Linked DNA regions of Homo sapiens. The protein of the gene in region 1 interacts with the protein of each later gene in a biochemical or structural test. Each region holds a gene or a part of one and is shown in the gene's direction. Other genes may lie near its edges.

Region 1 (6,866 bases):
CTCAGTGTCGCGTGCATCCTGGCCCAGGAGCAGCTTGTGGTGGGAGTAGCAGACAAAGATCTGTTGAAGAGTGAGTAAGAGGGACCCTGGACTAGGGTGGAGGATCCCCAAATCTCCCCACCCCCGACCCTTATGCCGAGATCAAGGAAGGGTAGGGCCATTCATTACTTCCCACCCTTCCCAAATGTCACAGTGGTTGACACTCAATTGGTGCTAAGGCCATTTTGTCAAATGAACAGCTTTCTCAGCATGTGGTCCAGTCACCACTCAATCAGAATACCCCAAATGTGAAGCAAAGGGATCTGCATTTTAGCAAGTTTTCCAGGTGATACACCCTAATGAGACACTGGGAATGAATGGGTGAGTGAGCTGCAGGTAGCAGTGCCACAGACAGGAGGAGGAAACTCAAGCATGGCATGGGTCTTGGAATTTTCCATCTGCCTCTGATGCCCTCTGGCACTGCTCGTTCTCTGGAGTGGTTTCCTGGTGGCTTATTCTCTGGACACATGCCAGCCCTTGGAGTGACTATTGTGCTTGCCTGTTTCTTCACCTTCATGCTCCCCTCACCATCACCATAGGCCTTACCAGTTGAACCCTTTCTGCCACCCCCTCTGGGGATACTGTACTTAGGGACACTTTTTCCCAAACTGGCCCATACTCTCCTCCCCAATAAAAAGATCTCACTGTTCTTCTGGGCTCCTTCCCCAGGCAAGTTGCTCCCTGAGCTGCTCCAACCTTATACAGAACGTGTGGAACATCTGAGTGAATTCCTGGTGGACATCAAGCCCTCCTTGACTTTTGATGTCATCCCCCTGCTGGACCCCTATGGGCCCGCTGGCTCTGACCCCTCCCTGGAGTTCCTGGTGGTCAGCGAGGAGACCTATCGTGGGGGGATGGCCATCAACCGCTTCCGCCTTGAGAATGTAACCCCTGAGGGAGACTGGCAGAGGGAGTGGATGGGGGACGGGGAAGGCCATTTTGAGGGGGCTGTTGGAAGTACCATGGCCCCAGAGGAGAGAAGTGGGGGCTCAGGGTGGTGGGAAGAAGCAAGGAGGAACTGGTTCTCAGTTTGCCCGCTGAGTCGGAGGAGGAGGAGCCTGGGTAGGAAGGGGAGGATGGGGGGGCAGGTTGGATGTCAGGGTCTTCCTCTCACTCCCTCCTTCCCTCTTTTTACCCTTTCCTCTTTACCCCAGGACCTGGAGGAACTTGCTTTGTACCAGATCCAGCTGCTGAAGGACCTCAGACATACAGAGAATGAAGAGGACAAAGTCAGCTCCTCCAGCTTCCGCCAGCGAATGTTGGGGAACCTGCTTCGGCCTCCATATGTAAGCTCCTCTCCCTCCTTCCCTCCTGCTTGGTGTCCTGGCAATGCTGGAGAGTAGAAGCTGAGGGGCTCAGCCCCAGGCATGAGGCTGAGGGCCCCAGTAACTGTGGGTTCCCTTTCACCTATCCCCAGGAAAGGCCAGAGCTCCCCACATGTCTCTATGTAATTGGGCTGACTGGCATCAGTGGCTCTGGGAAGAGCTCAATAGCTCAGCGACTGAAGGGCCTGGGGGCGTTTGTCATTGACAGTGACCACCTGGGTCATCGGGCCTATGCCCCAGGTGGCCCTGCCTACCAGCCTGTGGTGGAGGCCTTTGGAACAGGTAATAACTGGGGAAGGCTGAAAGTGGCCTGGAGTGAGGAGCTAGCCAGGCCTCTGTGCTCAGTTGTCTGTCTGTGTTGTCCAGATATTCTCCATAAAGATGGCATCATCAACAGGAAGGTCCTAGGCAGCCGGGTGTTTGGGAATAAGGTAAACAATAACTTCCTAAGGGCTCCTAAGCCGCTACTAGACCCAGGGGTCAGGGTCCAGTGGACCTCTCTGGTCTGGCCCAGAATGCCATTTCCATTGATCTGTTCCCAACACCACCTTGCTCGGGCTGGCTGCCTCTTCTAGAGAAGGTAACCTCTGCCCTCTGTTCCCCTCCCCAGAAGCAGCTGAAGATACTCACGGACATTATGTGGCCAATTATCGCAAAGCTGGCCCGAGAGGAGATGGATCGGGCTGTGGCTGAGGGTGAGTGGGAGGGAGGATGGCAACAGCTAAGGGGACAGTTAAGCTGTTTCTTCCCCTGGGAGCTTCCCTGCCCAACGTGGGACTGTCTGTTCACCCTGGGACTGTGTTCTGCCTGGGAGAACGTCGGCACTGCTGGCGGTGACTGGGGTCTCCCCACAGGAAAGCGTGTGTGTGTGATTGATGCCGCTGTGTTGCTTGAAGCCGGCTGGCAGAACCTGGTCCATGAGGTGTGGACTGCTGTCATCCCAGAGACTGAGGTATCTCGCCCCACCCCCCACACCATCCCTACTGCAGATCCTATCCTGTGAGCTGGAATTCTTCCTGACAAATGTCTCGTCTGTGCTCAGGCTGTAAGACGCATTGTGGAGAGGGATGGCCTCAGTGAAGCCGCGGCTCAAAGCCGGCTGCAGAGCCAGATGAGCGGGCAGCAGCTTGTGGAACAGAGCCACGTGGTGCTCAGCACCTTGTGGGAGCCGCATATCACCCAACGCCAGGTTGGTGCCCAGGGCAAGGCCGGGTTGTGGGGAAGGAGTCTCCAGTGGGTACTGCCTGACCCTGCCCTCTCTTCCTCCCAACATCCTGGCCTGTCTGAAGGTGGAGAAAGCCTGGGCCCTCTTGCAGAAGCGCATTCCCAAGACTCATCAGGCCCTCGACTGAAAAGTTCTCAGTGGGGCCAGACTGGCTCCTGGAGCTGACAAGCGACCCCGTGGTGAGGAGAAATGGGGGCCTTGATGCTCACCCTGGTTCAGGCCCAGAGGTCCAAGCTATACTGTGCAGGACATGGCCAGGCCTGGTGGACACAGGAAGCCTACCCAACACGCTGGTATTTGGCCAACACTGAGGATGTGGTTCATGGGGGAGCAGTCCCCTCCCCACTCTTGCCCATGGGTGACTCTTACCCACAGCTGACTAGGGCCAGCGCAAATACTGGAACCTGTAACAGAATTAAAGGTGAATGTTCTGAGATGTTGCTTGTATGGTGTCTGCTTCCTGTTCCAATGCCCCTAAGTATCTTTGGGATCCTTAAGCCACAAGTGCAGGGCCCAGGCCTGAGCTGGAAGCCTGGGCAATGCAGTGGTTAAGAGAATGGCCTTTGAGGCTAGCCAGAGGCGAGCTTTGGCCCTCCCACTGACCAGCTGTGTTCTTCTGAGTAAGGTGTAGACTTTCTAGGTACTGCCGTGTTTTATTGTTTTTGTTTTGTTTTTAATATGAGAGGCCGCATAACCTAGCTAGCAGGTTCTTTGCAAGGGTTCATTCCACATGCATCCTGCCAGACACTGGGCTGGGTGTTGGAAGATCAGCCTTCCGCGCGCCAGGCGGGGCCTCTGCCCTCACAGAGCTTGCAGCCTGGTGGGGTCGGACGATGTGGCTGGGGGCTTCTCTGCCCGGTTCCTGACACACCGGCCAGCAGTGCAGGTCCGGTGAGCGCGGGGAGGCCGCCCTCAGGGTAACGTGGGGAGCCGGCCGGCCGGACAGTGCGCGTGCACACACTATCTGCGGCGGTGTGCTGACAAGCCAATTGAGGGGACTCCATCTTACAAAACGCGCTTCATGTCGCCGCCATTCCACTGCCTAACCCGGGGAGGGCAGGCACGGCGGGGAGCAGTCTCGAAGGAGGCTGGCGCCAGGCCAAGCGCCGGGCCTTGACGGCTGGAACCGTGGAGTAAAGTCTTTGGGCTGCGCATGCGCGATGCTTCGCCCTGCCCCACCTCTCGGTCGCGGATTGGCGGGCGCGGGTCACGTGGGCACGCCACCCGCTTCCTCGCCGCAGGGGGCCCGCCCGCTGGCCCGTTTCCGGTCCGGTGGGTACAAGATGACGGAGCCGGGCGCCTCTCCCGAGGACCCTTGGGTCAAGGCAAGCCCCGTGGGCGCGCACGCCGGCGAGGGGAGGGCGGGTCGGGCTCGTGCACGTAGGGGGGCCGGAAGACGAGGGGCTTCCCTCCTGTCCCCAAAGTCCCCCACGCTCTCCGTGCCCCGGGGCTGCAGAGAAGACAGCTCTCACCCCGCGTGTGCCAAGGTGGGGAGACAAACGAGGCGTGTGCGCGCGAGTCGGGGGAACGGGGCACTGGGGTGGAGTAGGGGCGGAAGGGATCATACACAGGGGAGGCACTCGCACGCCCTAGCCTGTGCCAGTCTCGGGGGACTCATTAAGCTGCCCGCGCACCCCGGGCTGTGTGTGTGCAAGCGCGCAGGGTGACAGAGGCGCCTTCCCGGAATGGGGGGCGCGCTGTGCGTGCCTGCAGTGGAAGGGGCGCCTCCCCCTAGGGGCGGAGGTCTGACGGGCCCTTCCCGTGCTCTGTGCCGCAGGTGGAGTATGCCTACAGCGACAACAGCCTGGACCCCGGTGAGTAGCTGCCCCATCTTAAGCTCTAGAGGGACACTCCCGCCCAGGCTCTCTAGATTCTTGTGGCGTTGCCAACCACGCCTGAGCACAGTCCACTCTCCCTGAGCAGAGTTCCTGGCTTGAGACAGCAGGAGCTGAAGGACAAGGGCAGAAAACAACTGAGGGTGACACCTAGTTCCCTCTGCTCTGGAACAGGGAAGTGGTGGAACTGATCACTCACCACTCAGTGGAGCAGCTGATCACTCACACCCTCATCACGTCCACATGCCCGTTTGTGAGCCAGGGGGGTATCATGCAGGCCTATGGAGCAGTGTAGACACTAGGGAGCAGAGCACTGCAGCGTGGTCTGGCAGGAAGTGGGGGGCCCAGTATGGTTGGCTTTGGGTTGAAGGGAAGAGGTCAGCATTTAAGAAAGCCATTGTGTGGCCGGGCGCGGTGGCTCACCCCTGTAATCCCAGCACTTTGGGAGGCCGAGGCAGGCGGATCACGAGGTCAGGAGACCGAGACCATCCTGGCTAACACGGTGAAACCCCGTCTCCACTAAAAAATACAAAAAAATTAGCCGGGCGTGGTGGCGGGCGCCTGTAGTCCCAGCTACTCGGGAGGCTGAGGCAGGAGAATGGCGTGAACCTGGGAGGCGGAGCTTGCAGTGAGCCGAGATCGCGCCACTGCACTCTAGCCTGGGCGACTGAGCGAGACTCTGTCTAAAAAAAAAATAAATAAATAAAAGAAAGCCATTGTGTCCTACAGGTGTCTGAGGGTCTGGCAATGTTCCCCACCCCACCCCTTAGTGATTGGGGCCTCTCTTTTCCAGGGCTTTTTGTAGAAAGCACCCGCAAGGGGAGTGTAGTGTCCAGAGCTAATAGCATCGGTTCCACCAGTGCCTCTTCTGTCCCCAACACAGGTAGGCAGTAACATCCCCCCCGACCTCGGGGGGCTCAGATATGTCATAATTGTAGTACCTTTCCTAGACAGGGAAGCCCCAGCCATCCACACAGGGGTGCTGGAGCCAAAGTATCAGACACAAGGTCTCACCATCTTTCACCTCATCTGGAACATTAGGTGGTTCTGTCCATCTGCCTTCTCTGGACACCAGGTTCTTCCCAGCTGGGGAAAGGTGGGCTAGCTGGACCCCACTGGGCCCCAAGATGACCTTTCCCTGCCCCCATCTCTGAGCGTAGATGATGAGGACAGTGATTACCACCAGGAGGCCTACAAGGAGTCCTACAAAGACCGGCGGCGGCGCGCACACACTCAGGCTGAGCAGAAGAGGAGGGACGCCATCAAGGTGAACAGGGAGGCCTGTGCCTCAGCCAGTGCGGGAGGGCCCTGCATAGTTTAGCTTCCCTGTGCCCTGACCCACTCAGACAGTCCCAGGCACCCTAGGGGGTGGGCAGGTAGTATAGTCCCAGGCACAAACACCTCCCTTGCAGCCTTCCCACCCCATTGAGTTTGTGAGCATAGAACTTGGTGTCATGGAGGAACTTTGTGCCATTTTGCTTTAATCTCTCAGGGTTAAAGAACCCATTTCCCCTGCTGTTTCCACAGAGAGGCTATGATGACCTTCAGACCATCGTCCCCACTTGCCAGCAGCAGGACTTCTCCATTGGCTCCCAAAAGCTCAGCAAAGCCATCGTTCTACAAAAGAGTATGGCTAGGGAAAGCACTGGAGGGGATGGAGCCAAGCGGGGCTGTGAAGAGGCCAGTGCCTCCTACCCACCCATGGCTCGGCCTTGGTGTGGTGATTGCCATGGGATAGTTGGGGTCTGGGGTAAGGGGAACAAAGTCAGCCTTATCTTCTTGGTTGAGAATACTTCTGTACCTGTCCTTTTTTTCTTGCCCCCACCCTAGCCATTGACTACATTCAGTTTTTGCACAAGGAGAAGAAAAAGCAGGAGGAGGAGGTGTCCACGTTACGCAAGGATGTCACCGCCCTAAAGATCATGAAAGTGTAAGAGGGGTGCTGAATGGGGGGAACCAGAACTTCTGAGGCAACTTCATTGCACACCCTCCCTTGTTCAAAGGCCACATCAGTTACTGCTGTACAGATAATACTCTTAGTTCCTGAGCTAGCCAGTAGGACTGTGTATCCCCAACTGTCCTTACACATGGCAGACACTCAGGAAATGCCTGTTGGATTAATGTAAGGAAGGTTGGAGAGAGAGGGCCACCTTTCCTGACCTGGAAGCAGTATCTCCCTGATACTGAACCCCACCCAGAAGCTCTCTGGGGCTGCCATTCCTGGGAGTACACAGGATAGTCCCGTCATTCTTCTTGGGTGGGCGGAGCTGCTGCAGCACCTCAGCCCTGGCCTGCATGCTTTTAGGAACTATGAGCAGATTGTGAAGGCACACCAGGACAACCCCCATGAAGGGGAGGACCAGGTCTCTGACCAGGTCAAGTTCAACGTGTTTCAAGGCATCATGGATTCCCTGTTCCAGTCCTTCAATGCCTCCATCTCAG
Region 2 (6,916 bases), on another chromosome or scaffold:
ACCCTCAGTTTGTTTATTTATTTTGAGATGGAGTTCGCTCTTGTTGCCCAGGCTGGAGTGCAATGGCGTGATCTCGGCTCACCAAAACCTCTGCCTCTTGGGTTCAAGTGATTCTCCTGCCTCAGCTTCCTGAGTAGCTGGGATTACAGGCATGCGCCACCATGCCTGGCTAATTTTGCATTTTTAGTAGAGACGGGGTTTCACCATGTTGGCCAGGCTGGTCTGAAACTCCCGACCTCAGGTGATCTGCCCACCTCAGCCTCCCAAAGTGCTGGGATTACAGGCATGAGCTACCGTGCCTGGCCTGTGTATTTTTGGAGACAGAGTCTTGCTCTGTTGCCCAGGCTGGAGGGCAGTGGTGCAAACTCTGCCTCCCGGGTTCAAGCGATTCTCGTGCGTCACCTCCCAAGTAGCTGGGGCTAGAGGCATGTGCCACCATGTCTGGTTACTTTTTATATAAACCTTCAGTTTAATCTTTTAGCTTACTGCTGTGTTTTTCAGCTTTATTCACTTTGCTTTTTTTCTATATTTTCGTTTCAACTCAACTTTTAAAAAATCATACTTGTATATTTGTATATTTATATTTATTTTCCAAGACCTCATTTGCCTCTTTTTCATAATGGGCTATTATTGCTCCATGGTACAGAATCTTCTGTTCTTTCCTAAACTATTAGTTATTTTTAAAATATTTGTTAACTTTCTCCCCCTTGCTAGTTCTCAGGTACCCGCTTTCTCCCAGAGTGCTGGCTTTCCTTAATTATTTGCTGACTTGTGCTGGTGTGTAACCCTTCATACTTAGGTATTTCTATTTGTCTGACTGCTGATTTGATTCCAATCCAGTGTTTCTTCTGATTCGTGGAGAAGAGACGACAACGCTGTGAGGCTCTGGTTTTGGTGGCTTGTCTGGGTGTGGGAGCTCCTTGTCATCATGGGATTTTTAGCTCCCTGGGTCGCCATCCTACATGGCCACTCTCCTGCCGATGCTGCCCGCTACTCAGCAGGAGGGGAAGTCGAGACCACCTCCTTAACCTTACAGACATTGATTGTGAGCTTGGAGCACCTTCCGTGACTGGACCACCCATGCAGTGGTCCTTTGCTTTTTGCATTTTTAACTGCAATTTTCCCCAAGAGTCTTCCCTAATACAGTCTCTTAGGAATTGACGGTGGGATTAAACAAGGCATGTTTCTGCACTGAATATGGTCTATGGGTTGCCACTTTGCAACCTCAGCTTTAAGGCTTATTTCCTCCCAGGAAACTGATGTTAACTTTTTAAGTTAAAAATGTGTATATAAGTAATACATGTTTATTTTGGAAATTAGAAAATACAGGCCAGGTGTGGTGGCTCATGCCTGTAATCCCAGCATTTTGGGAGGTTGAGGCAGGAGGATTGCCTGAGCCCAGGAGTTTGAGACCAGCCTGGGCAACATAGGGAAATTCCATCTCTACAAAAAAATTAAACATTAGCTGGGTGTGGTGGTGCCCACCTGTGGTCACAGCTACTCGGGAGACTGAGGTGGGAGGATAGCTTGGGCAGGGGAGGTTGAGGCTACAGTGAGCCACGATCACACCAATGTGACACAGTGAGACCCTGTCTCAAAAAAAAAAAAAAAGAAAGAAAATATAGGTAAACACAAAGACAAAAAAGCAGGGCATGGTGGCTCACACCTGTAATTCTAGCACCTTGGGAGGCTGAGGCAGGAGGATCACTTGAGGTCAGGAACTCGAGACGAGACCAGGCTGGGCAGCATGGCGAGACCCCATCTCTATAAAAAGTACAAAAATTAGCAGGGCACGGTGGTGTGCACCTGTGGTCCTGCTACTTGGGAAGTTGAGGTGGGAGGATCACCTGAGCCCTGGAGGTTGAGGGTGCTGTGAGCCATGATGGCACCACTCCACTCCAGTCCAGGTGAAAGAGCCAGATCCTGTCTCAAAAAAAAAAAAAAAAAAAAGTGGCTGGGCATGTAAACTTACCAAGGACCAAGGAGACAAGTCTTGAGAGAAAGGAAGGCAACTCAAAGGATGGACTTTTAAACACTTGTAACCAGCATTGGGAACAGTAGTAGGTTGAAGAGGGAAATCTAGAACTCATGCCTGAAAACTGCCAGTCATCCAGCCCATTTTTCCATACAGACATTTGGAAATAAGTTAATGGAGCCATTTTGGTGAGAGCCCTCTGTTCCCTTCAGGAGGCCTTTGTCAGGAAGAGGGTGGGGCAGGGGACTCACCCCCCACTCAAATCTGGAACTGAAACCAGCTTCAAAGCCGAGTGCAGAGCCAGCGCGGTGGCTCATGCCTGTCATCCCAGCACTTTGGGAGTCCAAGGCAGGCCTCACTTGAGGTCAGGAGTTCCAGACCGGCCTGGCCAACATGGTGATTGCACCACTGCGCTACAGCCTTGGGTGACAGAGCAAGACTCTGTCTCAAAAAACAAAACAACAATAAAACAAAGCAGAGTGCAGGAGTGGCTGTGGACTCTGGACGCCCTGCTAGGATTAGGATGGGTGTTCCTGGCTCATGGGCCTCACTGGCTCTTCTGATGCCCTGCCACCCCCACCCCAGACTGGCTTTGAGCCCCGGAAACCTTGACAGCTTTCTAGAGGTGTCTGTCAGTTAGGTTGTGCCACGCGAAGTTGCCGTTTCTGCAGGTCAAATAGTGGTGGACTATTGGCAATTTCTAGGCACCTCTGGTCTGGTTGATCCAAATCCTCCAACCTGTGGCACATTTATTTAGCGCTCATTTTGTGCCAGCCTGCCTGCTAAGCAACTTATAGCCATTTTTATTTGTATTTATTTTTCTTTTTGAGACAGGGCCTCGCTCTGTCGCCCAGGCTAGAGTGCAATGGCGCAATCTCGGCTCACTGCAACCTCCACCTCCCGGATTCAAGCGATTCTCCTGCCTCAGCCTCCCGAGTAGCTGGGATTACAGGGGTGCACCACTACGACCGGCTAATTTTTGTTATTTTTAGTAGAGACAGGGTTTCACCGTGTTGGCCTGGCTGGTCTTGAACTTCTGGCCTCAAGTGATCCACCCGCCTCGGCCTCCAAAAGTGCTAGGATTACAGGCATGAGCCACCGCGCCCCACTATAGCCATTTTTAAACTGTCCCAAGTTTCTGAGGAAACGGAATTGTTCACCATTTGACAGAGAAGAAAACTCTGGCTCAGATACTCCCCTTTTAGAATTGTTTCGGGGGCTGGCTCGTCCGTCAAACTTTAAAAAAATAACAACAGCATGCTGAGTTGAAGTTAAAAGAGCTGGGGTCTGGAGGTCGCTGGGCTCAGGGGCGCTGCCACTCAACAGCTGCGCCGAGCTGGGGACGCGCAGGGGAAGCAAGTTCCCAGCTCTGTGGACTCCAGGTCTGAGAAAAATCCTGTCGGTATTCAGCCACCCAGTGTTCCCATCAATACGATGAGAATAATGAGGACAATAGCCACCACGTCCGGCAAACTCAGGCGTGAGCTGCGAGGACTCGGTACCGCCCGGCAGGGAAAAAGCAGGGCCTGGAGGCCGAGGAGCCCCACCCGCACCCACCACGTGGAGCCGGCCGGGCCTGCGGCGAAGCCACAGGGCGACTCCCGGGGCGCGGAGCGGGGCGGGGGCGGGACTAGCACGGCCCCACTCTGCCGACGCCTCTCCCAGGTCGCGACACCGGCGAGCCGCTCCGCCCGGCCACCGTGTCCCTCAGCACCCACGGACGCCGGGAGAGGAGGAGGTGGCGAGGGGCACGGCCGGGAGGCGTGGCCTCCGCTTCCCCTTTTTTTTTTTTTTTGGTCCGCCTAGCTAAGGAAAGGTTCCCCTGCGCCTTTAAGAGGCCGACGCGGGCAGCCGATTGGCCCAGACGCCTCGGTGACGTCACGCCGGGGCCGGAGCCCTCCCCCTCCCGCCGCGCCGCGCGCTCGCGGACAGTCGGCGCGCGGGCCGGGCCGGGCCGGCGCCCCTCTGCCTCGCGCGCTTGTCGCGTTGCCCCGGGCTCCGGGGGATGCCCCCGGCCGAGCCCTTCTCATGGCCGCCGACGTCTTCATGTGCTCCCCGCGCCGGCCTCGCAGCCGGGGCCGCCAGGTGCTGCTCAAGCCCCAGGTGTCCGAGGACGACGACGACTCGGACACGGATGAGCCGTCCCCGCCGCCCGCCTCCGGCGCGGCCACCCCGGCCCGGGCCCACGCGAGCGCCGCGCCACCGCCGCCTCGGGCCGGGCCGGGCCGCGAGGAACCTCCGCGCCGCCAGCAGATCATCCACAGCGGCCACTTCATGGTGTCGTCGCCGCACCGAGAGCACCCGCCCAAGAAGGGCTACGATTTCGACACGGTCAACAAACAGACGTGCCAGACCTACAGCTTCGGCAAGACTAGCTCCTGCCACCTGTCCATCGACGCCTCGCTCACCAAGCTCTTCGAGTGCATGACTTTGGCCTACAGGTAGGGACCCCCGCGACCCCCTGAGGCCCCGGCCGGAGGCCCTTGTTTGACAAAACAAGCGTGGAGGGAAGGGCCGCCTGGCAACCCCGTGGCTTCATGCATTCCCTTTGGGTCTTCCTCCTTCGGGAGGGTTTATGGATCTGGGGTTCCCCGCGTTGCCAGAGGAGCCGGGGTCCTGGCCTCTTCCCCTGCCAGCAGTGCCGGGGTCCTTTCGGGTTCACGTTCCCCATCCAGGCCCTCCCCTCCAGTGTCCTGGGACCACCGATGTTGGACGAGGAAGAGGTATAAACACTGGCTGCATCTTGTGTTACCCGACTCTATCGACTCCTTCCTCCAAACGCTTTGTGTGTTTCCCCCATATCCAGCAGCGGTCAGGACCACCTGTTCGGGGTGACTGGAGGCTGGCTCTGCTGTTTAATGGTTGTGTAACACCTCGGAGCCTGTTTCCTCCTTTATAAAAGGGGAATGACTGTAGTGTCTGCCTCCAAGGGGCTGTTGTGGGGATGGAGTGAGATAGGTAAATTGCTTATTCCAGTGCTTGGCCAGAGTTAGGTGTCCCTGCACCTGGAGGCTGGCCCCCTTACAACCTCATCGGGAGGCCCGCCCCCATCTCGGGAGGGCTTTGGGTGCCTCCTAAGAAGACTTTTGGTGCCACAGCTGTTGGAGGTGCAGTCTGTCCTTCTGGCAAGTTGGAGGGTTTTCTGGCCGGTCCTGAAACATTATATGAGGGAGATGTCATTGTTGAGGGCAGACATCCCAGACACCGTTCTGACATGTGGATTCGGCTCTGGGCAGAGATTCCTCTTTTCCAAGTCACAGAAAATGCCTGGCCCTCAAAGATTAAAGCGCTTTTTCACTCTCTCTCCCTTTCCCACTATGAATATTAGGTATTTGCTGCAGGTAACTTTTTTGTCTGCGCAACAGAACTTCTTTGGACTGGCAGCAGCGGCCTTGAGCAGCTTGGCCCTGCAGAAAGCTCATGATGGGATCTCTGCTGAGTTAAGCTTATTGCATTAGGAACTGGACTAGCGGGGGCTGTCTTAGGTCTGCTCTGGAGGCATCGCGGGAGAAGTTTCCTAGGAGACTCCATAAACAGCGTAATAAAAGAGCAGGAATATCTTGCCCCCTCTCACCTCACCTTTTTAAGAGAGCTGTGAGCCCCAAGCATATCCAGGTTTAAATGTTATGCTTTTACCTGAAGTTAAAATATTAGATACTTAGCCCTGGATGGCACCCCCCTCACCGCCGCGGTCCCTGGAATAAACGATTAGTCAACTTGTTCTTTGTTATGTTCCTGAAACACCCCTATTTCCTCTCTTGAAGGTTTCCCTGATGATCTGTTCCCGTAGCTCCTCCTCCCATCCCCCTTACCCGGCACATTGGTCAGTCTCTGCTGATTCTCTGGTCTTGCCAGTTTGAGCTGGCACTGAGCCTGTAAAGATGTTCTGCTTTTTAAAAAACAAATGGTGTTGAGGCTGCAGCCCTGTGCGCCCTCCAGTCTCTGATTTTGAGCAGTTCCATTGGAATCAAACCCGACTGGATCGCAGCATATGCTATGCCTCGAGAGAGCCTTTTCAAACAAAGCTCGAGGTGAAAGACTGGAATGTATCTTATTAAGAAAACTTAATCCTCTTCTTTATTTTAATATAAACTTCTACATATACAGGGAGAGAATGGATGAGTCACGGGGGGCATGGACTGGAAAGGTCTCACCTAAGTAAGCTCTGCTAAATGAAAACTAAATCAGTCTCCCCTTTGCACTCTTGTTTGGATAACCTAAAGGCTTATTAAACAACACCAAATAATTTTAGTAATGGCATTTTTTTTTTCATTTCTCTCAAAAATATTTTGGCAGCTGGCCGTTGCTCAGTTAACTTTCTTGATTGCAAAATGCACCATCAGTTTGGTGCAAGAAGCTTATCTTGCTCTCTTGGCTCTCTCACTTTCGCTGCTTTTCCCTGTGCCTAAGGTCTCCTGCTGCCTAAGGTCGGCCACCTAAGGTCTACCACCACAGGCCCTCGGATGGGATCTGTCCAGTCATTTCTCATGAAGATGCCCTTTGTCTGTCTGTGTGAGGCTGGTTTGTCCAGTGCTGAGTTTAGTTGGCAGTGTAGAACTTTGGTATGGATGACAGACAAATGACTCAAAACCAGTTGTCTGGGCTGTAGTCTGTGGCACAGAAAGAAACTAGAGGAAGGTGAGTTTCTGACCCCAGCTCTCCTAGTGAGAACTGCTACCTGGCTTTCAGGGAAGGAAGGTTGAGATCGGAGGCAACGCGGGGCGTGGTGGCTCATGCCTGTAGTCCCAGCACTTTGGGAGGCCGAGGTGGGGGATTGCTTGAGCCCAGGAGTTCAAGATCAGCCTGGGCAATGTAGCAAGATCCCCATCTCTAAAAAAGAAAAAGAAAGAAAGAAAAAAAGGGATTGGGGGCAGGGCAGAAAGAAGACTTAACCTCAGAGCCTGTCTGGCTTCCATCCTGGTGGGGTTCATGCCTTCCCTG

What was found.
Region 2: the proteins of MLX (region 1) and MLXIP form a complex in vitro, tested with the Homo sapiens proteins (2 studies listed by BioGRID, with this or other methods).

What each region holds. Positions count from the first base shown.
Region 1 is NC_000017.11:42,563,253-42,570,118, forward strand, and holds the start of MLX (max-like protein X), read left to right. Parts: upstream 1-3,847; 5' UTR 3,848-3,872; coding exon 3,873-3,914; coding exon of another isoform or gene 3,915-4,076; intron 4,077-4,366; coding exon 4,367-4,403; intron 4,404-5,217; coding exon 5,218-5,307; intron 5,308-5,584; coding exon 5,585-5,691; intron 5,692-5,951; coding exon 5,952-6,051; intron 6,052-6,254; coding exon 6,255-6,354; intron 6,355-6,729; coding exon 6,730-6,866. Other genes in the region: COASY (bifunctional coenzyme A synthase), read left to right, coding at 1-70, 709-923, 1,194-1,325, 1,457-1,646, 1,731-1,795, 1,975-2,059, 2,219-2,316, 2,407-2,553 and 1 more. UniProt on the Homo sapiens protein: Transcription regulator. Forms a sequence-specific DNA-binding protein complex with MAD1, MAD4, MNT, WBSCR14 and MLXIP which recognizes the core sequence 5'-CACGTG-3'. The TCFL4-MAD1, TCFL4-MAD4, TCFL4-WBSCR14 complexes are transcriptional repressors.
Region 2 is NC_000012.12:122,074,851-122,081,766, forward strand, and holds the start of MLXIP (MLX-interacting protein), read left to right. Parts: upstream 1-3,905; 5' UTR 3,906-4,003; coding exon 4,004-4,416; intron 4,417-6,916. UniProt on the Homo sapiens protein: Binds DNA as a heterodimer with MLX and activates transcription. Binds to the canonical E box sequence 5'-CACGTG-3'. Plays a role in transcriptional activation of glycolytic target genes. Involved in glucose-responsive gene regulation.